Linked DNA regions of Homo sapiens. The protein of the gene in region 3 purifies or fractionates together with the protein of the main gene of each other region. This does not show direct contact. Each region holds a gene or a part of one and is shown on either strand. Other genes may lie near its edges.

Region 1 (7,594 bases), on a different chromosome or scaffold from region 3:
GATTTCTCTGCATCAAAGCCTGATGATAACTATGAATCAAGAGTGGTTAATGACCCAGCCCCTTTAGCTCTCTCCCACTTCGGGACTGCTGCCATCCTAGAAAGCCCCCACTTCATTCCCAGCAGCCCTCATTGTGATGAAAAGGATCCCGAGGCCAAGTGTATGTAGGCAGACTCTGCCGTGCAGATTTCCCTGTCTGCAGGGAGTAGCAGCAGCAGGCGACAGGAAGGCACAGAGAAGGAGAAAGGAAACAAGTTGACTGCCTTGGAGTCCTCCAGAAATGTCTGCAGTGTCCCAGTGGGCATCCAGGAGGAAGTCCTGGGAGGACAGATGAGAGCCCGGGGAGGCGTGATTGGGTAAGAAGGAGCAGCTTGTAGGTGACCCATGCCTAGTGCTCACAGGAGAGCTGCCTTAAGCACCGTCTACCAGGCAGCGAGGGTCTGCTGAAAAGAAGCATTCATGGCTGGGGTTTTTCTAGTGTGACTCCCTTCCCAGTGAGAAAGACCTCAGAGAACTTAAAAGGAAGGGCACAGAAGAGTGGCAGAGAGGGTGAATGACAGCGTGGCATGCTCCAGGGCTGGGCAAGAGAGCCAGGAAAACGTAATGTATACTCCGCTTTACAGAGATGTTAATTAATGCCTGCCTTGTCCTAGAAACCAAATTGGTACCTAATGCTAAGTGCAGAAAGTGCAGAGATTTTCTGAACCCAGATGTTTAGCTTATAACCAGCATAATGATACTAGCTTTGCATTAAAATGATGGATCCTGAGGCTGCGAATACATGAGAAAGGAAAGAGGGTAGGGAGGAAAGCAGAGAAAGGAGTGGAGGTCTACAGGGAAGACACAGACATTTCAGGAAGATCCTGTACCCTATCCCTTTGCCTCTTCCAGGTCCCATGAGGGACTGTTTACCTGGGAGGCACCCACTGTTGCTGGAGCTCATTATTTCTTTTGCAAACCATGTGCTGCTGTACGCGTAGGTGGGATCTGCCTGTCCACGCCCTCAAGGGGCATGTGGGGAGAAATGTTCCATTTCTTCCACAGCCCGGAAGACAGAGGTGGACCCCATTGTCACACATGGCGGGGGCGGGGAGCTGACCACATTTAGCCAGACTCTGAGAACGCATGTGTGTATATATATTGGGTGTGTGTGTGCACACGCCCACCATTCTTAAAAAGCAAATAAGGTTTCTTCCCCCTACTGGGGTCTCTCCATTGTGAGAGATTTGCTTTATTCCATCTATGCTTTTCAATCAATCAAAGGGCAGCTCACACAGCACACAGCGGGAATACAATCTCCCTCCCGGGGTGTCTGCGCTTCTCCCCAGCCTAGCCAGAGACCTTTGCAGGAGCTGAAAAAAGTTTGGAAATAGCGGAGTCAGGGTGCTGAAAAAGCCCTTTCATTCAGCCCCTATCTTCAGGATTTACAAAAACAACCCAAATTCTGAGCCTAGCACTGAGGCCTCCTTGTTCAAAAGAATGTTTGCTCCTCTTCCATCATGTTCTGTAAGGCTCCTAACATATTTTTTCCACTGGTGGGTCTGTGGGATACTCTGAACACATGATCTTGGACAGAGGGTACAAGCTTATTCAGTTTTGTGGGAAAATGATATGATCATGTTGCCTAGAAAGCTACCTCAAAGTGACAGCACCAGAAACACAGGAGCTTGTACATATATATTCAATTCCGAATTTGATTTGGATCTCATGTTCTTCTCCCTATGACAACTGAGACCCTAAATTAGTTGCTCTTAGACCCCAAGAAGGGAACTATGGAAAAGCCTCTTAGAACCCCAGCCACTTCCTACCTCCTCCAGAAAAAGTTAAAATGAGCAGCCTGTGAAATTCCAGCCAGAGAGAACAAGAATGAAAATGCTTTCGGGAAATAGGACCTTAAAGCACGGGCGTCTGGGGAGTGATTCTACAATCGGAGCAGGCTTGGGCTCTGGGGGACGCTGGCAGACCCACGAATGCCTTGCCTTCTCCGGTGGGCAGTGCCGCCACGGTCGTGAGGGAGGGGAGCCTCCTCTTTTGGAGGACTATATCCCTCGTGCTTCCCCCTTCTAGTTCTCTTTCTCAGACACACACCACGAAAGGCATGTGACAGGTGTTCGCCAGCCGGAGGCACCGGGGAAGGCAGCCCCATGTGCCCAGGGAGGGTAGGGAGGTGAGAGGGGACCCAAGTCCTGTGTCTCCAAGTCCTGTCTGCTTGCTGCTAAGCAGGCACTGAGGCTGTGAATAAGGTCTTACCTTTTAAGGAGGATCTGACCCCCGTACCTTCCCTAGACAAGCAACATACGCGGCGATGCTTTAAGCCGCTTTCTGCCTGAAATCTCGGCGCATTCCCGGGGAAGCAGTGCCACGCTTCAGAAAGGCGTTTGTGCTGCCTCTTACTGGGGAAACGCAGTGTCTGTTTCATATGCGCCGCCCTACAGAACTGCAGCCCCAACCGCCTATCTGGCCTCCTCCCCGGGCGCTGGGCCACCACTCTCTCCAAATATGCGTCCGAATATCTGTGGGTCTGTCTCCCGTTGAAATCCCAGGGTGTCCAAAGGCCACGGGGCCGCGATGACACTGGGTAGGTCTCCGGAAACCTCTCAGGACTTCTCCCATTTTAAAGCCCAGCTAGGGACGAAAGGGGCTGGGAGCTGAAAAATTGCTCCCTCAACCTCCCCGGGTGGGAGGCAGAGCCGGGAATACACAGAATCCCACCCCGAAAGTCCCGGGAAAGAGAAGTCTGAGTCCAGGAGCGTGAGAGGAGAACACACCCGGGAAATCCCTGCTCCGGCCGCTGCACCTCCGCGGGCGTCCAGGTGGGACGTGGGCAGGTGCGCGAGCGCCGTGTGTGCCGGTGTGGATCTGTGTGTGTGCCTGCGTGTGTGCGTGTGCGTGTGCCGCGGGCTGGCTCCGGGACACTGAGGACTCCCGGGTCGGCCCAGGTCTGTCCGACCTTGCTGCCCTCGCCGCCCGCCCGGCCCCACTCCCCGGCGGGCCGGCTCCTTACCTGGACGCGCCGCGTTTCCCTCCTTCAGCGGGAGCGCCGCATTGACACTGCAGATGGAGCCTATGCCGCTGCCTCTCGCCCTCCTCTGAACGTGTGCGTGTGCGCGCGTGTGGCTGCCTCCTCCAGCCCCAGCCCCGAACGCAAATACTCCACCGAGGCACAGGGAAGCCGGGAGCAGCCGAGGAACGCGGAGGGCGCCGAATCAGAGCCTGCGGGGCTTGACAGCTTCTCTTGCGGCGTCCAAGGTGGGCGTAATGTCCAACAAAAAGGTCGGAAAATGGGGATCGATTCCGAACACCCCTTTCCTCCACCCAGCCCCGGAGCCCGAGCAGCGGCGGCGGCTCTCGGGGGCTGCGGTGGCGACGCCGGGCTGCCCCCCTTCGTCCCCACCCCCGCGGGCTGAATGTCCTTGATGCCAAGCGGGCACAGCGGCGTCACTCCGCGCCGCCCATGCTCGCCCGGTCGGGCCGCTGCCCGGGCGCGGCGAGTGCGCGGGGGACCCGCCGGGGAGCGCTCTCGGCGCCTCTGCGCGCCTCTCTGGGTAGCGGCGGCCGCCCCCCGGCAGCCCGCGGCCGGCCGCGCCGCGGCAGCCCCCACCCTTGCCGAGACACTCGCCGGGCAGTGCCCTGGGGCCGGGGCTGGGGGGCCGCGGGAGCCGCCGGCTGCTCCCCGGGGAGGCGCGGGGCTGCGGCGGTGGTGGCTGCGGCGGCTGGCGCTGCGGCGGCGGAGAGCTCGGCCGCGGGCCGAGCCGGGCCTCCCGGGCGCGCCCCCGGCCCCCCGGGCGGGCTGCTCGCAAAGTTTGCAGGGGGCAGGGAGCGGGGCCGCCGCTGGCTCGGCCGCCGCCGGAGCTCCCGGGCTGCCTGCTGCCGCCGCGGCTCGCTGCTGCTGTGCATTGAAGCCCGGCCAAGCGCTGCAAAAACTCCAGCTGCCTGGCGCTCTCTGGGTCCTCCTCTCCTCCCTCCCGCCCTCCCTGCTTCCCTTCCTCCCTCCCTCGCCTCGCCTCCTCTCCTCCCTGCCGCCCGCCGCCCGCCGCCGCTCCCTCTCTGGCTCGCTCTCGCTGGCTCGGAGCTCGCGGCTGACATCTAGAGCGAGGGAGAGCGGCCGGCAGAGGGGGCAGGGGGCGCCTCCCTACATGCTCCCACCCGCCGCCGCCCGGCTTGCCGGCTCTCCTCCGCACCAACGTTTGCCGACACCCCCCTGGGTCCCCTCGGCCCGCACGGAGCTACCCTGGCGGTGGCGATGTGGGGCGGAGAGAGGGGCATACATGGGTGACCGGAGCGCACGGCGCGCGCTCAGAGGGAGGCGCTCAGCCGCCTCGGAATTTGCAGCTCTGGGCGCTGGCCGTCGGAGGGACCCTCAGGTGCTCAGAGCTGACACAAGCGCACACTGACTCTGAGGCATACACCCATTGCTAGTCAGAACCCCTCCCAACACCCCACCAAGTCACCCCCACATGGCACCCAAGGAGGCCGAGGACACTGAGGGCACAAGGCCCGCACGAGAGAACATGAGTGGCCAGTGCCCCAGAGCTGGCTTGGTAACCTGACTTTTCCATTCATGTTTATACTGAGCGGCTCTCCTGGCTCCTCTCTTCTCTGAAACCCTAGATCCTAGACTACATCCAGAACAGACCATGCCAACATCAGGGTGGTTTCTGAAGCCCAAAGAAAGAAATCACCATGTAGCTCTGGTTTAGGCAGTGAAGATGGGGAGTGGGTGGCACTACCTCCCAAACCTCTGCCTAGATCCCCCTAGGAATGGGCCCACCCACCAAGAGAAACCGAAGGGATTCCCACACCTGTTAACTCAACTCTGTGCATGCCACCCTCATCCTCATACCCGCTCCCACCATAGTCTGAGGGAAGTGGCACCTTCAGCAGAGTCCAGTAAGCATTCCCTGGGATAGGCAACCAGCAAGGACGACCCTCTAAAGGAGCCCATGGCTCTTGGCCTCCTCTCTCCTGTCCCTTCTTTAGTTTTCACTGTCCTCACACCCAGAAACTCCCGCCCATTACTGTCCCTCCCATCGAAACATCTCAGAGCCTCCTTATTAGGTGGACATGACTGATAATGGCTTAAATGCCTATACCTCCCTATAGGGGTTATATTCTCACAGAAATCGAAGTTGTGTGAATTGGGGAGCCTTTGAAAGGAGCTGTGAGATGACAGCTTAAACAAGCCCCAAGGTGAGCGGCACATATAGGTCAGGCTTGGCCCACCCAGAGAGGACCCTGCTGAAACTTTGCTCTCACCAATGAGAAGATGAACCAAGCCAGAATGAGGAGGAAACCACATGTTTGATTCTTTGGTTAAAGGATATTCCAGGAGACAGCGTGGAGCCCTTTTAGTCTCTGGTTCTCTGCTGAGTCTTGCATGGCCCAGAAAGCAGCAAGGAGTTATCTTATTAAGCTTACATGAATACATTGATCTGACTCCACTCTTCCCAGAAACCCTGAATCCCAGACTCTAGATAAAGCACACAATATCAGGTTAGTTTCAGAAGTCCAGAGACACACATAACAAAATCACTCAATGCTACTGCCTCTTGAACATCCTTCCAGGGTGGAGGAAGCCCAGGGCCAAATGCCTCTCTCTGCAAGACTGGGATTAGCACAAGGCCAGCCGGGCACTGAGGATACAAAATCCAAGGAGGCCCTGTCACCCCAAGGTCCATGTAAGGTTTGCATCACCTGATCCTGACACTGCTTCTAGGTGTCCCTTTTAAAATTGCTGCATGGGTCCATCACGGCCCATTTCCAGAAGTGACAGCCCGGATAGCCCCATGAAAGTCCCTAATGGGTTACTTAAGGAATATCGTTCAATTAAAGGCGCGGGGGAGACTCCTTTCAAACTTCTGTTGGCCACTCAGCTTTCAGGGTATGTCATAAAATGCTGAAAGGAAGGGGGGAAGGTGAGAAAACAACTCTGTCTCAATTCTCAGTCATTCTAGCATGTATTTTTAATACAATCTGATTGTCTTTTTCCTCCTCATATCGGTTGTATTTGTGTGTGTGTGCGTGTGTGTGTGTGTGTGCGTGTGTGTGTGAATATGGCTTGAGTTCCAGGCCCATTTCCTGATGGATGGACGGGAAGTCAAAGACCTTTTTTTTTTTTTTTTTCCAGAGGTGGCAAATAAAATGTGTTTATTATTCTTTATCTCCTGCCTAGTGTGTGGTGTCATTTATTTTCATTCAAAGAAATGAATGCCATGTGGTGCCTGAAGAGTAATAACAGAGCCAAATGACAGGGAAGACACACAGCAAAAAGCTGGACCAGCCACGGGCAGGTGAGGGGCCCAGCGAGCTCTCCCGTTGTTAATGGGGCCAGGGGCCATATCTCAAATTGCCTTTCCCCGGTTGCCTTCCACTGAATAACACGGTAAAAGGCATACCAAAGGGGGCAGTTATCATATTATCGGAAGGAGGAGTAGAAAGGGTCAAATTAGCTGCAGTAGAGGATTTTTTTTTTTCAGTGATGACCCATTGGATTGACTCCCTTAAGTTAGGAGAATGGAATGGGGTGGGATGAGTAGGGCCTCTACATTGGAAGTTAGAAAACACATGTCCTACTCCTGGCTCTGTCATTGGCCAGCTTTACAATTTGGAGCGGGTCACGTCCTCTCAATGATACCTCATCTCTCACCTGACACATTCGCCCCTTAGAGTTGCAATGACATTCAAAGGACATACCATCTTATTAATGTGCTTTGAAACTCTAAGGTAGGTACAAAACACATGTAGGGAATTAGAGTCGCTTTCCAGATGAATGTATCTTTTTATTTTTTTCAAATAGAATGATACAATGAGGGTAGGCCTTCTGCTATCTTGTCCCCACCCCAAGAATAAATACACAGGCAAAAGCAGCATCTTACCACAGTTCAAAATGTGTTTCTGCATTAGGTACAAGATCTTCTGGCTCTCACACCTCCTCTACCCCCTCTCCCTTGGTGAGGGCTAAGGGAGACACAAGTAGGACCATCTAGGTGTCCCCTACTGACAATGGCTCTGTGAGTCACTCCCTCTACCTCTTGCCTGGTCGTGAAACTGGTTATGTCATTGTCTGGACCCATGGCCACAAGAGGGAGAAGCTAAATGGCACATTGCTTCAGAGAGTCCTGTTTTCTAAAGAAGCTATGTCTGTGGGACTTGGGTTGGGGTTTATTGCTGGGTTTAGACAGAAAAAGTATTGGTTCATCTCCCACAGCTGAATAAAAGGACCAGTTTAATAGGAAAGAGGAGAAGAAACTCTTAAGTTTCCCCTCACTTAGCTACCACCATTTTATTAGCCTAGGAACAGTGCTGCTATTTAAGTTGATAAAAGCCAGATTTGCTCGTTAAATAAATCACCAGAGCCTGGTGGTGCTAGAGAGACATTTTCTTTCCCCCAAGAGCTGCCCCCATGGCTGGGTCTTGTACCTTGCACTGGATAGAAAAACCACAGGCAGGCAGTCAGCAGCTTAAAAACCTAAATTGTGGCGCCACCTGCAGGACAGCAGGAATATCATCAGTATCCCACAGCTCAGCAGAGGAGGCAAGAGGAGCCTTCCGCAGTGACACAGGTGAGGCCAGGGTGCCCTCTGGCCCCTGCTTT
Region 2 (7,069 bases), on a different chromosome or scaffold from region 3:
TAATCCCAGCACTTTGGGAGGCCAAGGTGGGCGGATCACCTGAGGCTGGGAGTTCAAGACCAGCCTGACCAACATGGAGAAACTCCATCTCTACTAAAAATACAAAATTAGCTGGGCATGGTGGCTCATGCCTGTAATCCCAGCTACTCGGGAGGCTGAGGCAGGAGAATCGCTTGAACCCAGGAGGCGGAGGTTGCGGTGAGCCGAGATCACACCATTGCACTTCAGTCTGGGCAACAATAGCGAAACTCCATCTCAAAAAAATAAAAATAAAAAAGAGCATGCAATTTAGTTAGGAGCCCTGGGTTCCAGGCCTAGCTCCTGCACTTAAGAGCCAGAGGCGAGCCATTTCATCCCACTAGGCCTCAGTTTCCATATCTGAAAACATGGGGATAATTAACTCCTAGTAAGAAAACCACCCAGAGCCACTGAAAGGAACAGATGGAAAGAAATGAACTTGTGGGCAGTTGTGGAGGATGGAGCCTTGTAGAGGGGATTTGGGGTTTCAGCAACCAGAGCCTGTGGGCAGATGACAAGCCAGAAATGCTGCTCACCTGGCCGAAGTGGGTAGCCCTCTCGCTTCTCCACTGTGTATCCCTGAGGAATGTTGTAGAATTCCGGGAGCCCCCCAAACTGCTTCCATACAGTGTAGTAGTTGAGGAAGGTCCTCATGGCATTGTCAATGTCTCCAATGAGGCTCTGTGGGAGAAAGTGGCTGTCAGGCAGGTAGACACCAGGCATAAAACCCCACAGACAACCTTAAGAAAAGACAAAGTAAAATCTGTGGGGCCAAAAAGGCCTTGAATCAATCCCTGAGTCTGCCAGTTACTCAGTGTGGTGCTGAGCCAGGCACTGGACTTCTCTGAGCCCCATCTATAAAACGTAAAATACACCACCTATCTCATGCATTGTTGGAAGGAACAAAGATTGTATATTAAGTCCCTAAATCTTCAGAGTCAATGTCAGCTAACAGTTTTGGAATTCGGCCAGCCAGTTAAAAATTCTAAGAATAGAGAAAAGTTTGTGCTAAGGCTCACTCCCACACCACACCCCCAAAAGATAACCATTTTTGTTTTTGTTTTTGAGACAGGGTCTCGCTCTGTCACCTAGGCTGGAGTGCAGTGGCACAATCACGGTTCATTACAGCCTTGACCTCCTGGGCTCAAGAGATCCTCTCACCTCAGCCTCCCAGTGCTAATTTTTTTATTTTCTGTAGAGATGGGGGTCTCACTTTGTTGCCCAGGCTGGTCTTAATCTCCTGGGCTCAAGTGATCCTCCTACCTCAGCCTTCCAAAGTGCTGGGATTACAACCATCACCCATCTTGCCTGGCCTCAGATAAACATTACTGGTTTCTTGTATAACCTTTCAGAGTTTCTTTATGCATGAGTATATGTTATTTTCCCCACACTAAAAAATAGCCTTTGGTTCTTTATTAATAGGGATATTAATTATCTCCATATTTTTAGATATGGAAATTTGGCTTTCAGATATTTTTATTTGAATTGGTTCCAACAACTAATGTGGCAATAAATAATTCTGTATATATGTCACATCAAATAGATGTAAAATGTTATGTGTAAGATACATTTTCAGAATTAGGATCACTGGGTCAAAGGATATATGCATTTATAATTTTACCACTATTGCTAAGTAGCCATTACTATTAATGTAATCTCACAGGGAAGCAGCTGACCCTGACATCTTCATTGGATGTCTCATGGACAGAACAAACTTGGCACTTCCTAAACAAAATTCTTGGTTCCCTTACTTTCCCACGAAATTGCCTCCCTACTTTGGCCTTTTTCCCTTCTTGGTAAATGACACAATGTCTACCTGGTTATTCTGGATAGAAACCCGGTGGCCACTTTTTTTTTTTTTTTTTGAGACAGGGTCTCACTCTGTCACCCAGGCTGCAATGGCATGATCATGGCTCACTGCAGCCTTGATCTTCTGGGTTCAAGCAATCCTTCCACTGCAGTCTCCTGAGTAGCTGGGACTACAGGCATGTGCCACCACCCTAGGCTAATTTTTTATTTTTATTTTTATTTATTTATTTTTATTTTTTTGAGACGGAGTCTTGCTCTGTCATCCAGGCTGGAGTGCAGTGGCGCAATCTCAGCTCACTGCAAGCTCCGCCTCCCAGGTTCATGCCATTCTCCTGCCTCAGCCTCCCGAGTAGCTGGGACTACAGGCGCCCACCACCACGCCCAGCTAATTTTTTGTATTTTTAGTAGAGATGGGGTTTCACCGTGTTAGCCAGGATGGTCTCAATCTCCTAACCTTGTGATCCGCCTGCCTCGGCCTGCCAAAGCGCTGGGATTATAGGCCTGAGCCACCGCGCCCGACCTAATTTTTTATTTTTTGTAGAGATGAGGTCTCACTATGTTGCCCAGGTGGGACTACTTTTTCTTAAAACTTTTAAAAACGTAGATTATAAAAACATTTTGGTACATGCACTATTTTGGAACACCAAAGTGGGGTAGATTAGATAAGCTCTAAGATCCTTCCAGCTGCAACTCTACCAGACCATGTAATGGAAAAACAACGAGATGGCACAGCGGCACAAGCTGCTTCCTGCCCTTCCTGAGGCCCACTGTCAAGAATGAGATTGGACAGAAACGCCCAGTGGAGAAACACCTGTTGCCAATGGCCATTCCTGCCCAGACTGGAAATGCACTGTCGACTTTAAGTACTGTAACACTCCATGGCAAACTGGAAGCTCAGTTCCTGACACTCAATTTGGCAGAACTCTAAATCTATCTAATTCACTCTAGGTCTCTCTTCCATCCTCAACCTGTCCCTCCAAAAAAAGTACTCAAGCAATTAACAAAGTACATTATTTGACTTATACATCAGAATGAGCTTGCTTTGCCAGACTCATAGAAAGATGATCACATTCTTTGATCATTCCTACCTGAAGACCAGGCCAGTAGGCCTCCAAGGACTGGAAGACTGGCATGGACACAGTCCCCTTGTACATCTGAACCCACAGGTACCAGTCATCGAAGCGGGTGTAGTTCCGGATGGCTTTGTTATACTCTGCAGTGGGGGAGATGGGATAATGGACATATGAGTGATTAGGGAGAAAAAAGGCAGGCCTGGACAGCGGAAGCGAGAACTTACACTTTGGAAAGAGCACCAGGATGCAATGAGGCAAGGAGGCTAGACAAGAGCATGGATTCTGGAGTCAAACTTCCAGCTCAAATTCCAGCTCCAGCTCTACCACTTGCTAACCGTGACCTGGGGTGGGTTTTTCCCTTTTAAGCCTCAGCCTTATGATCTATAAAATGGGGAGGCCAGGCGTGGTGGCTCACATCTATAATCCCAGCACTTTGGGAGGCCGAGGTGGGCGGATCACCTGAGATTGGGAGTTCGAGACCAGCCTGACCAACACGGAGAAACCCTGTCTCTACTAAAAATACAAAATTAGCCAGGTGTGGTGGTGCATGCCTGTAATCTCAGCTACTTGGGAGGCTGAGGAAGGAGAATTGCTTGAACCCAGGAGGCGGAGGTTGCTGTGAGCTGAGATCGCACCATTGCACTCCAGCCTGGGCAACAAGAGTGAAACTCCATCTCAAAAAGAAAAAAGCAGAAAATAATTGATGTGGTTTGGCTGTGTCCCCACCTAAATCTCACCTTGAATTGTAGCTCCCATATTTCTCACGTGTTGTGGAAGGGACCTGGTGGGAGATAATTGAATCATGGGGGCCGTTTCCCCCATACTGTTCTCATGGTAGTGAATAAGTCTCACAAGATCTGATGGTTTTATAAGAGGTTTCCCCTTTCACTTGGCTCTCATTCTCTCTTGCCTGCACCATGTAAGATGTGCCTTTCGCCTTCCGCCACGATTGTGAGGCCTCCCCAGCCATGTGGAACTGTGAGTCCATTAAACCTCTTTTTCTTTATAAATTACCCAGTCTTGAGTACGTCTTTATCAGCAGTGAAAATGGTCTAATACAGTAATGTTAGGTATCTGTGGAATTTTTCAGTCATTTATTTATACCACAAACATTCGCTAAGCACCTACTAGGTTCCAGGCTCCTATGAGTTTGTAAACAAGACAAAATCCAGCCTTCAGAGAACTTACATTCTAGTAGGAACTTGAATTTATCCCTCATATCTCTCCCCTAGATTGTAAATCCATGAGGCCTGGGACTTTGTTTTGTCTACTGCAGAATCCCCCACACTAGTACAATGAGCAATAAACATTTTCTGAATGAACAAAGTACCAAATATACATGCAAATAAATAAGATAATCTCAAACAGGAGTTGTAAGGATTATATGAAACAGTCCATGTTCAGAGCTTGGCACAATGCTTGGTACATCCGTGGTATTCAATAAATATTTGTTGAATAAATGAGTAAAGTAGTCCCCCCTTATGTGAGGAGAATACGTTCCAAGACCCTCAGTGGATGTCTGAAACCATGGATAGTACTAAATAAACTCTATATACAGTCATGTGCCATATAACAACATGTTGGTCAACACTGAACTGTAGAGATGGTGGTCCTATAAAATTATAATAGAGGTGAAAAATCACCACAGCCTAAAGATATCACAGCTGTTGTAATTTTATAATGCAATGCATTACTTACTTGTTTGTGGTGATACTGGTGTAAACACACCTACTGTGCTGCCAGTCATAAAAGTATAACACATACAATTATGTATAGTACGTGATATTTAATAAACAACCATTTACGCGTTTATGTATTTACTATATTATTATCATTAGATAACTCCTTCCTCTTATATAAAAAAAGTCGGCTGGGCGTGGTGGCTCACACCTGTAATCCCAGCACTTTGGGAGGGCGAGGTGGGCGGATCACGAGGTCAGTGTTAGACCATCCTGCCTAACACGGTGAAACCCCATCTCTACTAAAAATACAAAAAAATTAGCTGGGTGTGGTGGCGGGCGCCTGTAATCCCAGCTACTCGGGAGGCTGAGGCAGGAGAATGGCGTGAATCCGGGAGGTGGAGTTTGTAGTGAGCGGAGATCACACCACTGCACTCCAGCCTGGGCAACAGAGCAAGACTCTGTCTCCAAAAAAAATAAAAACAAAAACAAAAATTAGCTGGGCGTAGTGGTGGGTGCCTATAATCCCAGCTGCTCAGGAGGCTAAGACAGGAAAATCACAGGAGAATTGAACCTGGGAGGCGGAGGTTGCAGTGAGCCGAGATGGTGCCACTGCACTCCAGCCTGGGCAACATAAGCAAAACTCTGTCTAAAAAAAAAAAAAAAATGAAACAGCTTCAGGCAGGTCCTTCAAGGAATTCCAGAAGGCATTGTTATCAATCATCTGAGATAACAACAGTTCTGTGAGTGTTACTGCCCCCAAAGACCTTCTAGCAGGATAACATGGGGAAGTGGAAGACAGTGATATTGATGATACTGACCCTAGGCCTAGGCTAATGTGTGTTTGTAGCTTAGTTTTTAACAAAAAAGTCTAAAAGGTGAAAACAAAATAAAAAACTAAAAACAGAAAAAAACTTAGAGAATAAGGATATAAATAAAATATTTCTGTATAGCTGTACAATGTGTTTTAAGCTAAGCATTATTACAAATGAGTCAAAAAGTTTTTTAAAATTTTAAAGTTCATAAAGTAAAAAAGTTACAGTAAGCTAACGTTAATTTATTATTGGAGGCCAGGCATGGTGGCTCACGCCTCTAATCCCAGCACTTTGGGAGGCCAAGGTGGGTGGAGATCACCTGAGATCAGGAGTTTGAGACCAGCCTGGCCAACATGGTGAAAACCCATCCATCTCTACTAAAAATACAAAAATTAGGCCAGGCACGGTGGCTCACGCCTGTAATCCTAGCACTTTGGGAGGCCGAGGCGGGTGGATTGCCTGAGCTCAGGAGTTCAAGACCAGCCCGGGCAACACAGTGAAACCCCATCTCTACTAAAATACAAAAAATTAGCTGGGCATGGCAGCGTGCACCTGTAATCCCAGCTACTCGGGAGGCTGAGGAAGGAGAATTGCTAGAACCCGGGAGGCAGAGGTTGCAGCGAGCCGATATTGCACCACTGTACTCCAGCCTGGGCAACAGAGTGAGACTCTGTCTTTAAAGAAAAAAAAAATCAGCCAGGCATGGTGGTGGGCGCCTGTAATCCCAGCTACTCAGGAGGCTGAGGCAGGAGAATCACTTGAACTGGGGAAGCAGAGGTTGCAGTAAACCAAGATCATGCCACTGCACTCCAGCCTGGGCAACAGAGCAAGACTCTATCTCAAAAAAAAAAAAAAAATTTATTACTGGAGAAAGAAAAAAAAATTTAAATAAATTTAGTATAGCCTAAGTGTACAGTATTTATAAAGTTTACAATAGTGTAATGTCCTAGACCTTGACATTCACTCACCACTCACTGACTCACCCAGAGCAACTTCCTGTCCTGTGAACTTCATTCATGTGCCCTTTTATACTGTATTTGTACTGTACTTTTTCTATGTTTATATACATACTTACCATTCTATTACAATTGTCTATAGTATTCAGTAGAGTAACATGCTGTACAGGTTTGTAGCCTAGGAGCAATAGGCTACACCATATAGCCTAGGTGTGTAGTTGGCTATACCATCTAGGTTTGCTTAAGTACACCCTATGATGTTTGCACAATGATGAAATCACCTAACGATGCAATTCTCAGACTATATCCCTGTCATTAAGCAATGCGTGACTACTGTTTTCCTATACATACACATCTATGAGAATTCTTAATTCATTAAATTTTTAAAAATTTTTATTTTTGAGACAGGGTCTTACTCTGTCACCCAGGCTGAAATGCAGTGGTATGATCACGGTTCACTGCACCCTTGACCTCCCAGGGTCAAGCAATCCTTCACCTTGGCCTCCCAAGTAGTGGGGACTACAGGCACGCACCATCATGCCCAGCAAATTTTTTTTTATTTTTTGTAGAGACGAGGTCTCACCATGTTGCCCAGGCTGATCTTGAACTTCTGGGGTCAAGCAATTCTCTCGCCTCAGCTTCCCAAAGCACTGGGATTAAAGGCATGAGCCACTGTGCCTAGCCGAAAAAGTTTAATTTATAAATTAGGCATGGGAAGA
Region 3 (8,039 bases):
ACCTCGCTAATTTTTGTATTTTTAGTAGAGACAGGGTTTCACCATGTTGGCTAGGCTGGTGTTGAACTCCTGACCCGTCTTGGCCTCCCAAAGTGCTTGGCTCCCAAAGGCGTGAGCCACTGCGCTTGGCCAGCACTTTTTCATTGATTGACATAGAAATAATTGTTCTAGAAGTATTTTGGGGTTTTGAACAAAGAAGTTACTGTGTTAGTGTGGTTTTCAATCACGCTAACCACACCAGCAACCTGCTCCTCATTCGTCTAAAACACCATGATAATTTTGAGAGAAGGTCTATAGAAGCAAATGCTTAAAAAACTTAGAAAAGCTGGATAATATATATCCAATATGTTATTGAAATTTTTGTCATGATTAATACCCAGGGCAAAACCAGGACCTAGATATTCTTCTGAATGACAGAATTAAAAATATTACTACAAAATGATTATAAAGCCAGAACTATTTATTTATTTATTTATTTTTTTGAGACAGATCTCACTCTGTCACCCAGGCTGGAGTGCAGTGGTGTGATTTCTGCTCACTGCAACCTCTGCCTCCTGGGTTCAAGAGATTCTCCTGTCTCAGCCCCCAGAGTAGCTGGGATTACAGGTGCCTGCCACCACACCCAGATAATTTTTGTATTTTTAGTAGAGACAAGGTTTCACCATGTTGGCCAGGCTGGTCTCAAACTCCTGACCTCAAAGTGACCCACCCACTTCAGCCTTCCAAAGTGCTGGGATTACAGGCGTGAGCCACTGCACCAGGCCTAAAGCCAGAACTCTTAATGTGAAAAAAGAAATCTAATGTCTGGGCACTCATGGACATAAAGATGGCAACAATAGGCACTGGGGACTGCTAGAGAGGGGAGGGAGGGAGGGGTCAAAGGTTGAAAAACTACCCACTGGGTGCTTCGCACACTACCTGGGTGACAGGATCAATCATATCTCAAACCCTAGCACTGTGCAATATATCTATGTCACAAACCTGCACTTGTATCCCCAGGATCTAAAATAAAGTTGAAAGTTAAAATTAAAAAAAAAAATCGAATGTCATTCCTACACCAACATCACAGGCCTTTGTATGTTCCCTTAGTAATACCTATTCAACCCCTTATGAAGCTCAATGACCTATATCCTCCTATGTTCCAGCATCCTATGAGAAGAGAAGTAAAAAGTATTTTTAAAAGGAAAAAGTCTTCTGCAACCACCCAGCCTACAACAGTGTCCAAGGGCTTTCCTGAGGTTGCCACTTGTGTTTTTTGTATTTCAGTGGCCCCCTGCCAGGCTTTGAGTGTTTATTCCCGAAGGGCATATGGCTGCTGGAAACTGGAGGTGGGAAAGATTGAAGAGGATTTGAAAAAGCCCCAAAGAGCTAGAGGAATGAGAAATGCACAGAGATGTCAAAGCAACAGGTAATGAGAGAGACCAGAGTCTAAAGGAAGGACACTGAGCAAATTTTGTGATGTCCGGTTCAAGTCCAGAGAAGAGTGACAAAAAGCCATTGTTATCTAATAACAACCCCCCGCCCGCCCCCCCCACCCCCAGCTCCTCGAGAAAGCTCTGTCTTGCCACGTCTCGACAATTTTGTCAAAGTTACAACCTGGTCATAAGCTTTAATGAGAAACATGCACCCTGCTGAGGTCAGGAGTTCGGGACCAGCTTGGCCAACATGGTGAAACCCCGTCTCGAAATACAAAAATTAGCCAGGCATGATGGCGGGTGCCTGTAATCCCAGCTACTTGGGAGGCTGAGGCAGGAGAATCACTTGAACCCGGGAGATGGAGGTTGCAGTGAGCTGAGATAGCACCATTGCACTCCAGCCACGGTGACAAAGCGAGACTCCATCTCCAAAAAAAAGAGAGAGAGAGAGATCTGTTCAAATCATGAGAAATGCTGAGACCAGAACACCTGCCTTTGACTCCTGTCTTCCGAATGCCAAGCTTCACCCATCCCTTTTCAACAAGTGCAAACCCATTTCAGGAGAGGGCACCGAATCCATCTTGAAAGGACTTGCTCCGAGTTTCAAAGCTGACGCTTTTAAGCTCTTAAATTCCCCTTCCAACAAACAAGCCAATAGTATGTTGGCATGCATTCATATAAGCAGGCTTGGCCCACGCCATATTTATTTAGTCTTCATAACTAGATGTACTAGAGGGTGTGAAGAATAAACCAGCACATCAGCCTTATTGAATATGCTTCCGACCAAAACCATCATTGGTTTGCCTTTCAAAGCCTAATCTAAGAGTCTCTGTCAAGAGTCTCATCTCTTCCTTAGAAGGAGCTCTTTCCCCAGCTCTGGCCCTCCCCACCAAGCTTGGAGCATGGGCCTCACCTGTGCACTTGCAGGTCCGGTGGAAGAATTTTCTTGGCCACAGCTCACGGTCATCCTGGTTTCGTAGGATGTAGGGACCACTCCAGGGCCTTGTGTCGGCTCGCACCTCTGTGCACTGCCCCCGGCCTTGCTGAGAGCCACAGACATTGGCCGACTCTGCACCCAGGCGTGGGCAGCACTCCTTGTTCACTAGGCTGTCCACCGTCATGCAGACTCGGGGGAACTGACCCTGGGCTCCTGGCAGGATTTTGCAGCCCAAGCAACTGAGCAGAAACCCCCACCAAAGGGGGCTCATGGCTTTATAATTGGGAGAGCTCTCTCTCTCTCTTACTTTCCTTGTCTCTGTCGTACTTTTCTCCTTATCTTCTACTCTTTCAGTCTTTTCTTTTCAGTATTTTTTATTTTTCTTTGCTTTCTATTCCTTTCTTCTTAAAAAAATACCCACAAGAATCACAGAGGTTACATGTGTGCACATGTGTACATGAACGTGCACACACAATTTTATGTGATTCAAACAACTAACAGACTTAATTTCCTTAGAAGCGCCTCTAACAACCAAATTTAATGAGGGTAGCGCTTCTCACCATCTTCCCCCGTTAAGTCAGGCTTTGTCTAATTGAGTTAATTTACAGAGCACCCAGTCATACTACTTATTATGCTGGTATTTCTAAACCCTCTCCCTCCCTCCTTAGCTCTTGACTTTAATTGCCTTGAACTCAGTTCAAAAGCCAAACACCGTGCTGCTTTTATTCTCTCTGGCTTGCCAAGCCACGGGGCCTTGGGGGCTTGTGTAAGGGCTGGGAGAAGCCTTCATTAGGGGGATTAGTATTACAGAAACCCTCATCATTAGCACATGACCCAAAGTGCACAATAAAGGAGATCACTTCTGGCTTTATTTCAGGAGGGCAAAACCATCTTCTTTATCTGGGCTCATGTGCTCCAGCCAAACTTGTGACCTCAGACATCCTGGGGAGTCAGTAGATGCAGTGAGCTCTTCGTCAAAGACCCTTTACACAGAAGCTCACATTGCCAACTACAATGCACTCATGGCTGCTTTCTGACATGTGTGCAAAAAAGACCACAACAGGGGGTCATGCAACTTCAAAAATAAAGAAACATTTATGTAGAACCAGGGTACAAGGAATTGCTTTGTTCCACAATTGGGAATCCTCTTCCCTCCAAATAATAACTTACTCTTCTCCTATTCAGCACATCTACGCAGCAATTTTTTTTTAATTACATGAAGTAGCATGCCACCAGAAACTCACAATTGTCATTATCTGATTGTATGGAAGGCACTGGAACCATTTGGAATGAAGGCTTGCAAGCAAATCTTTTTGATTAGACTAAAGTGAAGCATGACTGAGCTTCAGTCTAGAAAGCAATGCCTCCTGGTGCTTCTGGAGAATGGTCAGGTCAGCAATGGTGGCCACCTGTCAGAACATCCATTTATTTTTTCACAGTGGAAACAGGACTGTCTTGGTAACTGTTTCACAGTGGAAACAGGACTTAGTGCCACAAGGATGCGAAACGGCTTCAGCTAGTTTCTAAGAATATACTTGAATGTAAAGACACATATTGTTATGTTTCAAAGCAAATTCCTAAGGTGAAACAATTATATAGGTATTCCCACCCCCTGTACCTCTGTGCCACCCCTTGATGTTAAGTTGTTGTGACTAATTAAATGGCAATTCTTATGTCTGACTCTACACCAATATCAGCCTGTACCACAGCCCTACTGAATCAGAATCTCTGAGGATGTTCCAGACACCAACCAACCTTTGTTAGAAAACATCTAGGCAATTCTAATGCTCAGCCAGAGTTGAGAATCACTGAATCAGAATACAGCAGAGCTCCAAAGGAAATATTGCATCAGCATCAGCTAAAAGAGACCATGTGCAATAGTTTCCTGAGGCTTCTGTAACAAATGACCACAAACTGGATGACTGAAAACAACAGAAATCTATTTTCTCACTGTTCTGAAGGCCAGAAGTCTAAAATGAAGGTGTTGGCAGGACTGGCGTGTGTCAGCCAGGCGGCTGCACTCTCCCTGGAGACTCTAGGCTAGAATCCTCCTTGCCTTTTCAAGCTTCTGGCAGCTGCTGTCAATCCTTGGCTTGAAACCGCAGCTCCAATGTCTGCCACAGCCCCATGGCCTTCTCCCCATCTGTCTGTGTTTTTCCTCCATGTCTGTTTCTTATAAGGACACTTATTGGATGTAGAGCCCACTCAGATAATCCAGGATGATCTCATCTCAAGATTCTTCACTCAATTACATCTGCAAAGAAGACTCTTTTTTCCAGACAAAGTCACATTCACAGGTTCTGAGACATGGACATATCTTTTGGGGAAGTCACCATTCAACCTAACACATCATGGGTGGGAAGAAACTTGGGGTTCTAAAATCGCAAAATCTCAGGGGTTTTTGAAACCTTTATTTTGGAGCTCATTCATTCATTCCATGTATATTTATTGACTGCCACTTCATGCCAGCATTGTGACACTTGGGAATTTTATTCCAGGTTTTTGTGAAGCCTTGGGGCTCCATAAATGTTAAGATAAAATTTCTTGGATGTTAAAACTGATGGAGTCAATAATTCTTATGTCAGAATGCCCCAGGTCGAAGTCCTAGGATCTCTTTTCTTTCATTTCCACACTTGCTAGATAACTCAGCTAGTCTGAGGCCTTAAATGCAGGCTATCATGACTTTCCAAAATTACAACTCTGACTTTGACCTCAGTTGTGAGCCCCAGACTCATATTATCTAACTTCCTACTGGACCTCTCTACTTGAAGGTTTAGATATTTCTCACCCAAGTTGAGAACTTTTGCTCTCTCCTCCCAAATGTGTTCTCCATTGGTCTTCTCCATCTCCACAAAGAGCAGCATCACCACAACCCTACAAGTGATCTTTGAGTCTTCTCTTTCCCACCTCCCCATGTGTGCTTTCCAATGCACTTCAAGTAAAATCCGAGGTGCTTTGCATGTGCTACTCAAAGTGTGGCCAACAGATCCGTGAATGGTGTGTTCCTGGTTTACATCAAGTTAAGAACAATAAGAATAGAAATTGAGAGTCAACACTGGGAAATTTTCATAGCAATTTGACATTGGGATAACATTCAGGCATACGATCAGTAGTTTCATTCAAGAGGGGAGAGTCCGGCTGTGAGGTTGCCAAACGTGCATGGTGATGATCACGGAGCACAGGCTGAATGCAATGAGTCATGTGCAGTTGGATCACGTGTTAGTCTGTGGCTGGAACATTTTTCTTTTTTAATCATTTACCATGGATAGTTTGAGAACTAGCTTAAAAGATCCTCCATGATTTTTCCCTCGCCTGCCTCTCAATCTCTTCTTCTGGATGGCAGACTATTGCAATCACTATTATTCAAACATGCCCCCATTCATTTCCACCTTGGCCTTTGTCTTGCCATTCCCTCTGTCTGGAATAATCTTGCTCAGAGCCCTCAGCTTCTCAGAGAGGCCTTCCATGATATTTTAACACGTCTACAGCCAGCCACCTTCTCTCTACCACATTACCTTATTTTATTTTCTTCATAGCACTTATCACCATCTAAAGTTATCTGACTTATTGGTTAGGTGGCTGAAAGACTGTCTCATCTACTGGACTATAAGCTCCTTAACTCTGCTGTGTTTTTCCAACATGTGCAACAGTATTTGGCAAATAGAGACTACTTGATAAATAGTTGATGAATAAATATTCCCAATTCAAAACTGTATGTTCATCAAAAGGGCCTCATTATTATAGTGACTGGCTTTATACAAATTAAATGCTTTTATTTTGAATATATAAAACACTTAGGCTTATAATGACCACTATTATATTGGGGGTTTCATATTAGGTTTTATTAAACTGCTGCAAATGTTTGAAAACCACCAACCCAACATCACTACAACCCATGAACTCCCCCCTCAGTATTTCCAACAAAATATCACTAGTGAGGAGGTTCTCACAACATTTCAGGAACAGTTCTAAGGGTGAGGAAATTCTTCCTTTTCAATAAGTTTTTGGCCTGGCACAGTGGCTCATGCCTTGTAATCCCAACATTTTGGGAGGCCAAGGCAGGCAGATCACGTGAGCCCAGGAGTCTGAGATCAGCCTGGGCAACATGGTGAAACCCCATCTCTACTAAATATACAAAAATTAGCTGGGCATGGTGACATGCACCTGTAGTCCCATCTAGTAGGGAGGCTGAGGCAGGAGGATTTCTTGAGTCCAGGAGGTTGAGGCTACAAGTGAGCCGTGATTGCACCACTGCACTCCAGCCTGCAGAAAGGAGTGAGACCCTGTCTCAAATAAATAAACAAAAAAAAGTTTTTAACAGTAAGTATAATTTAAATGTAAATTTAAACATAAATGTTAAATAAAAATTTCCTTCCCCAATTCTTTCATCAAAAGCCTTTGGTAACCCAGTCAGGCTCCATAGACCGGGTACAGTCCATTTCCCACAGGCGTTTCTCCCTTTTTTTTTTTTCCAGACTAAATATTCTCCATTCCTTTTCATTTTCTTTCATATGACTTAGTTTGTTTTTTGTTTTTGAGACAGAGTCTCACTGTGTAACCCAGGCTGGAGTGCAGTGGTGCAATCTTGGCTCACTGCAATCTCCACCTCCCAGTTTAAGCAATTCTCCTACCTCTGCCTCTCGAGTACCTGGGACTACAGGCACCCACCACCACATCTGGCTAATTTTTGTATTTTCAGTAGAGACGAAGTTTCACCATGTTGGCCAGGCCGGTCTCAAACTCCTGACCTCAGGTGATCCTCCCACCTCGGCCTCCCAAAGTGCTGGGAGTTTACAGGTGTGAGCCACCGTGCCCGGCCCATATGACTTAGTTTTAAATCTCCCCATCAGCATGGTCTTTTTTACGGACAACACAGTTCACGATTTGACCTCTGAATGCAGGTTTCCCATAACTTAATTCAATGTTCCTGCTACGATCTAAGCAAAGATAACCGAAAAAGAATTACCTTGTAAGCTTTGCTAGACAGTCACATCACCTCATCAATTTTGTCTACATCCACTCAGGCTAACTCACGCTGCAGTTAAGACCTCAAAATGTTATTTGGCTTATAAAAGAAATGTTTATTTCTTATGCAGCTGCACATCCACCACATGTCAGCTGTGACTGTGCTGTACACTGTGTTCACTCCAGGACCCAGGGGGAAACAGCATCTTTTCATTCTTTTCATTCTGCTAATTTTGCGTCAAAGTAGAGGTCAGTGATGGGCCACTACTTGGAAGAGGTCCACCTTACTCACGTCTGCTCCCACCCCATTGGCAAAAAGCAAGTCCGCGGGCAAGACAGCTGCTCTCAAAGACAGGGGTTCTGTGAGGATGGCCCCTTTAGGGAGAGTCAAGAAGTATTTTATTTTTACTGCATTTGAAATCAACTTAAAGCCTTATGTCATTTTCATATAGCTTTCACAAGGCTGCCTTAAAGTCAGATGCCTCTCATATCCCCATCTGCTCTTCTATTCGTATGGAATTGCCTTTTGAGGTCTGTATTAGTTTGCTTTGGCTTCCATAACAAAATGCCATAGAGTAGATGGCTTAAACAACAGAAATGTACTTTCCCACAGTTCCAGAGGCTGAAAGTTCATGAGCAAGGCATGGGCAGGGTTGGATTCGTCTGTCAAGGCCTCTGTCCTCGGCTTGCAGAGAGCTTCCCTATTGCTGCCCCATGCCATG
Region 4 (7,069 bases), on a different chromosome or scaffold from region 3:
CCCGCCTCGGCCTCCCAAAGTGCTGGGATTACAGGCGTGAGCCACTGCGCCCGGCCACTGCTTTCTCTTTAAGCTCCTTTAGAACAAAGCTGCTGTCAAGGCTCACTTTCATCAGCCCCTAGGACATCCCACCAGAATAGCTCTCCACCTCCCTGCCTGTTCTAGTCCCCAAGTCCCCACTGCCTGCAGCTGGTTCTACCTTAGACATGTGACAGAAATCGCCAATTTAGAAAGTGGGACTCTTACCCCCACCATGGGCTAAATGACAAACTTATCCAAAATTCAGAGTGAGGAAGTTTCTGTTCCATTTAATAGACAAAATTAGCTTCTTTGAAAATTATGACTGATGGTGGTCTAAAGACTTAAAATGAGCTACGAAGGTGACATCACCCCACAACTAAATGTAATGAGAGCCATCAATAAAATTTACCCATATGAAGTCAAGCAAAATGTACAATGCTTGGGGAAATAAACTGCCTGCAGTACCTAGGGTGAGCTTCATCAGTGCTTGCTTTGGATCCAAGATGTAATGAGATTCTTCTTTCACGTCAACAATTGCCGCAAATTCTTTCACCTGAGTGGAGCTCGGAGCACCCAGTCTCTCTGCATATAACCAAAACAAATTTGAATCCAAAAGGTAGATGTTGAGAGTCTTGTTGGTTCTGCAGCTCAGGCCTGTGAAGTTTGTGCTAGTCATGTCCACTTCTGGAAAGAGATACCTGTTCTCCTCAATGTGAGGAACGGAGCTTGGGGCATCAACCTCACATTTCTTCTCAAGGGAAGAAAATGCAACAGTAGGGGCTTCAAAGACACCTTGTTCAGAGTCGATGAAGCCTGACACACCCCTGCTTATGGTCCTGCAACATGCAGTGTAGTAGCTGAAGGGGCTATAGGAAGTTAAAAAATTGCTGCATTCTATGCTGTCTGATGCCACATGATAAAAGGTCTGCTCCTTGAGGTAGAAAGAATCCAGAGCTGCTGCCATTTCAAAAAAGCTGCACTGTGGCACGCTGACCGAGCTCGGCTTCATGCCCCCGGAGGTCTGGTTGACACAGAGTTCACAGACGTTGTGGGTCCTGGAGAAGGAGTGCCACTGGGGCAGCACCACAGTGTTGCAGCAGGGGGACGCTGTGATCGTTGGCGGGTCTGGCAGCTGTGCCGGCACTTCCAGGGCCAGGGACTCCAGCACTGGAGCATCCACCCGCCGCAGGTGCTGAAGGAGACGCTCCACCACCTGGTCCCCATGACAGTTGTTGTACTCCAAGGCCACTTCGGTGATCTGAAATACAGGGCAGAGTTGGTGAAGGGCTTGGGGATGACTGAGGGACTAGCACCCCGTTAGCCACGTTTCACTTTCTGTAATTTCAGTTATCCATGGTCAACTCCGGTTCAAAAATACTAAATGGAAAATTCCAGAAATAAACAAGTCGTAAGTTTTAAACTACATGTCGCTCTGAGTAGTGTGATGAAATTTTTGCCATTACAAAAACTGCGAGCCATCCCTTTGTCCAGCGTGTCCATGCTGTGGATGCTGCCAGCCTGTTACTTAGTAGCCAACGCAGTTATCAGATCAACTGTCTCAGTATCACAGTGCTTGTCTTCAAGTAACCCTTTATTTATTAGAAGGGCCCCCAAAGTGTAAGGATAGTGATGCTGGCAATTCAGATATGCCAAAGAGAAGCCAAAAATGCTTCCTTTAAGTGAAACGGCAAAAGTCTCAATAAGGAAAAAAAAAGAGGTAAGGATGTTAAGATCTTCGGTAAGAACGAATCTTCTACCCATGAAATTGTGAAGAAAAGTGAAATTCGTGTGTAGTATATACAGGGTTCAGTACCATCTGTGGTTTCAGGCATTCATTGGGGGTCTTGGAACGTATCACCAAGAATACGCAGCAGGGTAGATGAGAGTGCAGGGGGAGATGGTTACTATATTTTTAAAAATACAACCCCAGGCATGGCACTCCTGGGCCAAATGGTACGCTGCCCATGAGATAAAACCTCCACACAATCTGGCCCGTTTGGCTTTCCAGTCTCACCCTACCCTCTTCAGAACAGACCAGGCCCTCCTGCAATGCCACACCTTTACGGAGTCCTGGCTGGGGACACCGGCTCCTCCATCTGTTCCCAAGGCCCAGCACCAGGGCAGCTGCTTCAGGGAAGCTAGTCCTACTCCCACTCCAGGAAGAGCTAGTTTTTGCACCTCCAGTGTCCCTGAGACCCCTTCTACAGTCTCACAAGCTTCTGCTGAGACATCCCTCTTCCCCACAAACTTACAGAACCTCACAGGCAGAAGCCACATTGGATTTATCCTGCCATCCCCGGGGCCTAGCACAGGGCCAGGCACATAACAAATGCTCAGTAAACCCCTGATGAATGAGTGGCAGCTCAGGGTAATGCACACAATCCTCTGTCTTGGTGAGATTTGCCACTTTACCGTCAAGCCAGTATTGGCAATTTGAATTTATATTTTATTCTAAGATTCTTCCATTTCCAAAAAGAATATTTCGTTACCCACCTCCCATTCTGGTTTCCTGAGAAAGACATGTAAGTTATAATCCAAAGGCATTTACTCTCTAAAACAGAAGAGTCTGTCAACTTGAATCAAATCTCACCACAGTTAGTTACAGGGTGCTGTCACTCAGGATTTTGTTTCGCTGTGTGTGTGTGTGTGTCTGTGTGTCTGCATGTGTAAAACAATTCAATGAGTGTAATTTCCAATTTAAAAACACAAGTTTTATAAAAATAAAAATAAAAAAGTTTTATAACGTAATATTTATAGTTAATTCAAAACATACATATTTGTACACAAAAATAAATTGTTTCAATAGTTCTCGGCATAAAAAAAGTCACTTTATAACCCACCAGAAAACTACTGGGTCAAGAAAAGAAGTCACTTTAGATGATAGGCCAGTGCTTGAAATTTTATTTCCCCTGCACAAAAACATCTCAGTGGTTTTTGGATGAGGCTCTGACAGCATGCAGTACTAACAAGGTCAAGCCTATATAATCCGTGAAGAGCCCAGATGCCCTCTGGCCCCATCCTGGTACTGTTTTAGATTCAAAGACGCAGTAATAGACAACTACTCCCACCCACTCCCGCAAAAACCTCCATAAGACTTCACGATTTACTGTAATCTTTTACAGAAGTCCAAGTAGGAGATCATTAATTATATTATAGAGAAGAAAATTCCTTGAAAAATCTTTCTTCATCTCTTTTAGCTTCAGTATCTCATAAACAAAGCAGCCACGTAAAGAATATTTTTAATTGAAGAAAGTATTCTGTCTACAGCAATGCTTTTTTTTTTTTTTTTTTTTTTTTTTTTTGAGACAGAGTTTCACTCTTGTTGCCCAGGCCGGAGTACAATGGCATGATCTCAGCTCACTGCAACCTCCCACTTCCAGGTTCAAGCAATTCTCCTGCCTTAGCCTCCCAGGTAGCTGGGATTACAGGCATGCATCACGACACCCAGCCAATTTTTTCTATTTTTATTTCGCCTGGTTAATTTTTTGCATTTTTAGGAGAGACGAGATTTCACCATGTTGGCCAGGCTGGTCTCGAACTCCTGACCTCAGGTGATCCACCTGCCTCGGCCTCCCAGGGCTGTAATCCCACTGGGATTGTAAGCATGAGCCACCGCGCCCGACCAGCAATGCTTTTTTTTGAGACGGAGTTTTGCTCCAGTTGCACAGGCTAGAGGGCAGTGGCACCATCTTGACTCACTGCAACCTCTGCCTCCCAGGTTCAAGCGTTTCTCCTGCCTCAGCCTCCCAAGTAGCTGAGACTACAGGCGCACACCACCATGCCTGGCTAATTTTTATATTTTTAGTAGAGACGAGGTTTCACTATGTTGGCCAGGCTGGTCTTGAATTCCTGATCTCAGGTGATGTGATCCACCCTCCTCAGCCTCCCAAAGTGCTGGGATTACAGGCGTGAGCCACTGCGCCCAGCCAGCAATGCTCTTAAAGAGTTAGGCATTATCATTTTTCTCCTATGAAGGGGAATTTATGTTTCTATTCCTTTTACCTAACAGGCAGTTTTGAAAACACAACTCATGTCACATTCTGTGTATCACTTGATGTCATTTATTTCATGTGAATAATTAAGGAAATCTTGGCAAATAACTGTTCGCACAGTAGATGTTTCCTTCTATTTTCTTTAATCAGGGAAATCTGTGAGCCTGAACATGCTAACCACGCCTTTGCTTACCAGATTCAGACGATGTGAATGCCTCAAATAAACACCTTTAAAATAGGAAACAAGTCACGAAGACTCTTTGCTGGCTGAGGTAAGCATTTCCTTTGATTAACAAGTTGTGTAATACACACTGTGATGTCTTATAACCTCTCTAGAACTCTCTAGAGACACCAGGGTGTCAGTGGCCTCACGCCAGTGTCAGGATCTGTACTTTTGCATGTGTGTGTGGGTACACATGCAGGTATGCATGTGTGTAGAAGCAGCTACCCACTATGGGCTTGGTGCGGCCACCATATGGTCACTCCTGACTGGCATCCTACATGCACCACAGCACAACTGTCCAGAATGTTGGTGCTTGGTATGCCCCCAACTCTATTCCACTCACTCTAAGATGACCTCTCTCTTCTCAACAATGCAAGCATCCTCAAAGTTCTGCCCAATATTAGGCCTAAGGTGGTAATGAAAAAGTAAAGCCACCTAACTCTTTCGTGGTCAACAAGCTAATGAATTTACAGCTCATCTTGCGTAAGTACAGCGTTCATCCTTCCCACCTTACCCAAAGGCTTCTTCATCTCTAGTCACTGTGTCACAGTTTCCCCGATCATAGACCCTACTTTCCACCCTCCACCTCTACCACCCAAGTTCAGGTTCTTACTACTTCGCAGTTTTCTGGAACCCTCCTGCCAGAAAAACGTTCGTAATGATAACGCACAGCCCTGGCTGCATCTCTTCACTGTCAGTAAGACTTGTATGGGCCAGGTGCAGTGGCTCATGCCTGTAATCCCAACACTTTAGGAGGCCAAGGAAGACCGATCGCTTGAGCCCAGGGCTTTTGAAACCTGCCTGGGTAACATGGCGAAACCCCATCTCTACAGAAAAATACAAAAATTAGCCAGGCGTAGAGGCGTGCACCTGTAGTCCCAGCTACTTGGGAGGCTGAGGTGGGAGGATCACCCGAGCTCAGGAGGCAGTGAGCCGAGATCATGCCACTGTACTCCAACCTGGGCAACAAAGGAAGACCCTAACTCAAAAAAAAAAAAAAGAGAAGACAAAGACTTGGATGACTATGGTTAATCTTGAAATCCTCAGAGAAGTCCACAAGGCCCTCTCCTCCAAAGGCTTTTTCAAGATCTCTCCCCAGTTAGCCCTTCCTGCAGACCACAAAACCCGGCCTCCTTCCTAACACCTAAACCTGCAGCAACTCCCGTCCCTCATGTCTCTGCTCAGGGTCCTCCTTCCCGTAAGTTTTTCTCAACCCATCAAGATCCTGGCTGCCCCTACAAGTCCGTCTCGAATACTTCACCCATCCAAAGCCTCTGCTAACTCCTCCCCTGCCCGGAACCCCGCTTTCTGAGATGGCACCCTCCCTCCTCTGGTTCCTCCTGACCCTGGGCCTGATCGTCCTCTACTTTGAATTATAGGCAGGCTTTCACTCCCTGTACTGGACAAGCCTCTAAGACCACAGGACAAGATGGTGTCGCATCTATCCTTTCTCCCCTGGAGCTTCCCAGCACAGTGCTCAGTAAACATTTGCCAAACTGACCTGAAACAAAAAGGGAAATGTGCTGGACAGGCACTTTGCTTGTCTGAGTAATTCATAATACGGTGAGATGCCACCTCGTGTTCGGTCATCTCACCCACATGCTGAAGTTAAGGGAACGCACTCACCTCACAGAGACAATGGGAGCCCCAAAGAAAGGAGTCACAGGCAAAACCATGATAAAAAGGAGGCCTGTTGGTAGGTGGAGGATTTGCAGACTGCTGGAGGGGACACTCATTCAGAAACAACAGGCGAGAAAGAGTCTTCCCACCAGGTGCCTAAATCCAACCACAACCCTCTGGGCAGAGGCTGTGGGCTCCTGCCACAAAATACAACCCAGCCAGGACCCTGACACACCCAAACCAGACAGGAGAGAACTCTCCAAATCCACAACCACAGCCACACCACCTTGACCGAAAACCTTCCTTTCCTACAATGAGCTTTAAGGCTCTTAATATTAGATACAGTAAAGGCCTAGTCATTTGAAATGGTGCCTCAGTTCACAAAATATCCATGTAGTGAAAATTTTCTAAAGAAATAGTTTTATTACTTTGAGTCCTCCCTAATTAGAGGGGAAGAAACAAAGCTATTTCATTTCTCTCCTCTTTCTTCCTCTAAACCAAAGAGCAGCATTCATTCAGAATACTCCCCAGAGGGAATCATAACTTGAGCAAAAAGACTCCAGCACAGCAAAGGGAGGGATCCACCTGGGCGAGAAGTCCTGCCTCCCTGTCCCTCCAGGCAGGAGGCCAGGCCAGCGCTGAGGGGCTCAGGTCTGCTTAGCTGGCCAGTGGTACACTGGCTGTCTGAAATTGGTTTTGGCCAATTAAGGGATCCTTGAGGGAGTGAAAAAATAAAAACCTCAGTAAATGCAATTTTGCCACCCCAGGCTCGCTCTGCATACTGTGCCTGCTGTCTCTCCAGGCTCGCTCTGCAAAATGTGCCTGCTGTCTCTGAGCGCCTCCAAATGCTCCGTGTGGAAAATAAACTCACGCCCAGAGCAGGCGCACCAGATGAAGCCGAAGACAGGCAGGAACAGCAGGCTCCGATGGCGCTGCCTCTGAAAACCACTCTGGCTTCTGCACGACAGGGAAGGTTCAGAGAAACAAGGTGTCCCAACATCGCTGCTGCTGCTCGCTCTCCTCTGCTGTCCTGAGGATGGCCAGGGCTGGCAGTCTGGCCAAACCCCCAAGACAATGGCATCTCCTAGGCCACACTAAACTCGGCCTGTGTTCCTGCCACTCCCTGTTTCACCCCCTAAACAGGAAGCTCAACAGCAGCCACATCAGAAGAGGGCATTTGGTCCTTCTCTAGAAGGGCACGGTGTGGCTTCCC

The links.
Region 1: the proteins of DCT (region 3) and PLXNA4 purify together in Homo sapiens (affinity purification with mass spectrometry; 2 studies listed by BioGRID and IntAct, with this or other methods). This does not show direct contact.
Region 2: the proteins of DCT (region 3) and EDEM2 purify together in Homo sapiens (affinity purification with mass spectrometry; 2 studies listed by BioGRID and IntAct, with this or other methods). This does not show direct contact.
Region 4: the proteins of DCT (region 3) and TXNDC11 purify together in Homo sapiens (affinity purification with mass spectrometry; 2 studies listed by BioGRID and IntAct, with this or other methods). This does not show direct contact.

The regions. Positions count from the first base shown.
Region 1 is NC_000007.14:132,573,418-132,581,011, forward strand, and holds the start of PLXNA4 (plexin-A4 isoform 1 precursor), read right to left. Parts: upstream 3,054-7,594; 5' UTR 3,005-3,053; intron 1-3,004. UniProt on the Homo sapiens protein: Coreceptor for SEMA3A. Necessary for signaling by class 3 semaphorins and subsequent remodeling of the cytoskeleton. Plays a role in axon guidance in the developing nervous system. Class 3 semaphorins bind to a complex composed of a neuropilin and a plexin.
Region 2 is NC_000020.11:35,123,336-35,130,404, forward strand, and holds part of EDEM2 (ER degradation-enhancing alpha-mannosidase-like protein 2 isoform 1 precursor), read right to left. Parts: intron 3,041-7,069; coding exon 2,916-3,040; intron 700-2,915; coding exon 555-699; intron 1-554. Other genes in the region: MMP24-AS1-EDEM2 (ER degradation-enhancing alpha-mannosidase-like protein 2), read right to left, coding at 555-699, 2,916-3,040. UniProt on the Homo sapiens protein: Involved in the endoplasmic reticulum-associated degradation (ERAD) pathway that targets misfolded glycoproteins for degradation in an N-glycan-dependent manner.
Region 3 is NC_000013.11:94,476,633-94,484,671, forward strand, and holds the start of DCT (L-dopachrome tautomerase isoform 1 precursor), read right to left. Parts: upstream 3,051-8,039; 5' UTR 2,624-3,050; coding exon 2,329-2,623; intron 1-2,328. UniProt on the Homo sapiens protein: Plays a role in melanin biosynthesis. Catalyzes the conversion of L-dopachrome into 5,6-dihydroxyindole-2-carboxylic acid (DHICA).
Region 4 is NC_000016.10:11,690,804-11,697,872, forward strand, and holds part of TXNDC11 (thioredoxin domain-containing protein 11), read right to left. Parts: intron 1,280-7,069; coding exon 487-1,279; intron 1-486. UniProt on the Homo sapiens protein: May act as a redox regulator involved in DUOX proteins folding. The interaction with DUOX1 and DUOX2 suggest that it belongs to a multiprotein complex constituting the thyroid H(2)O(2) generating system.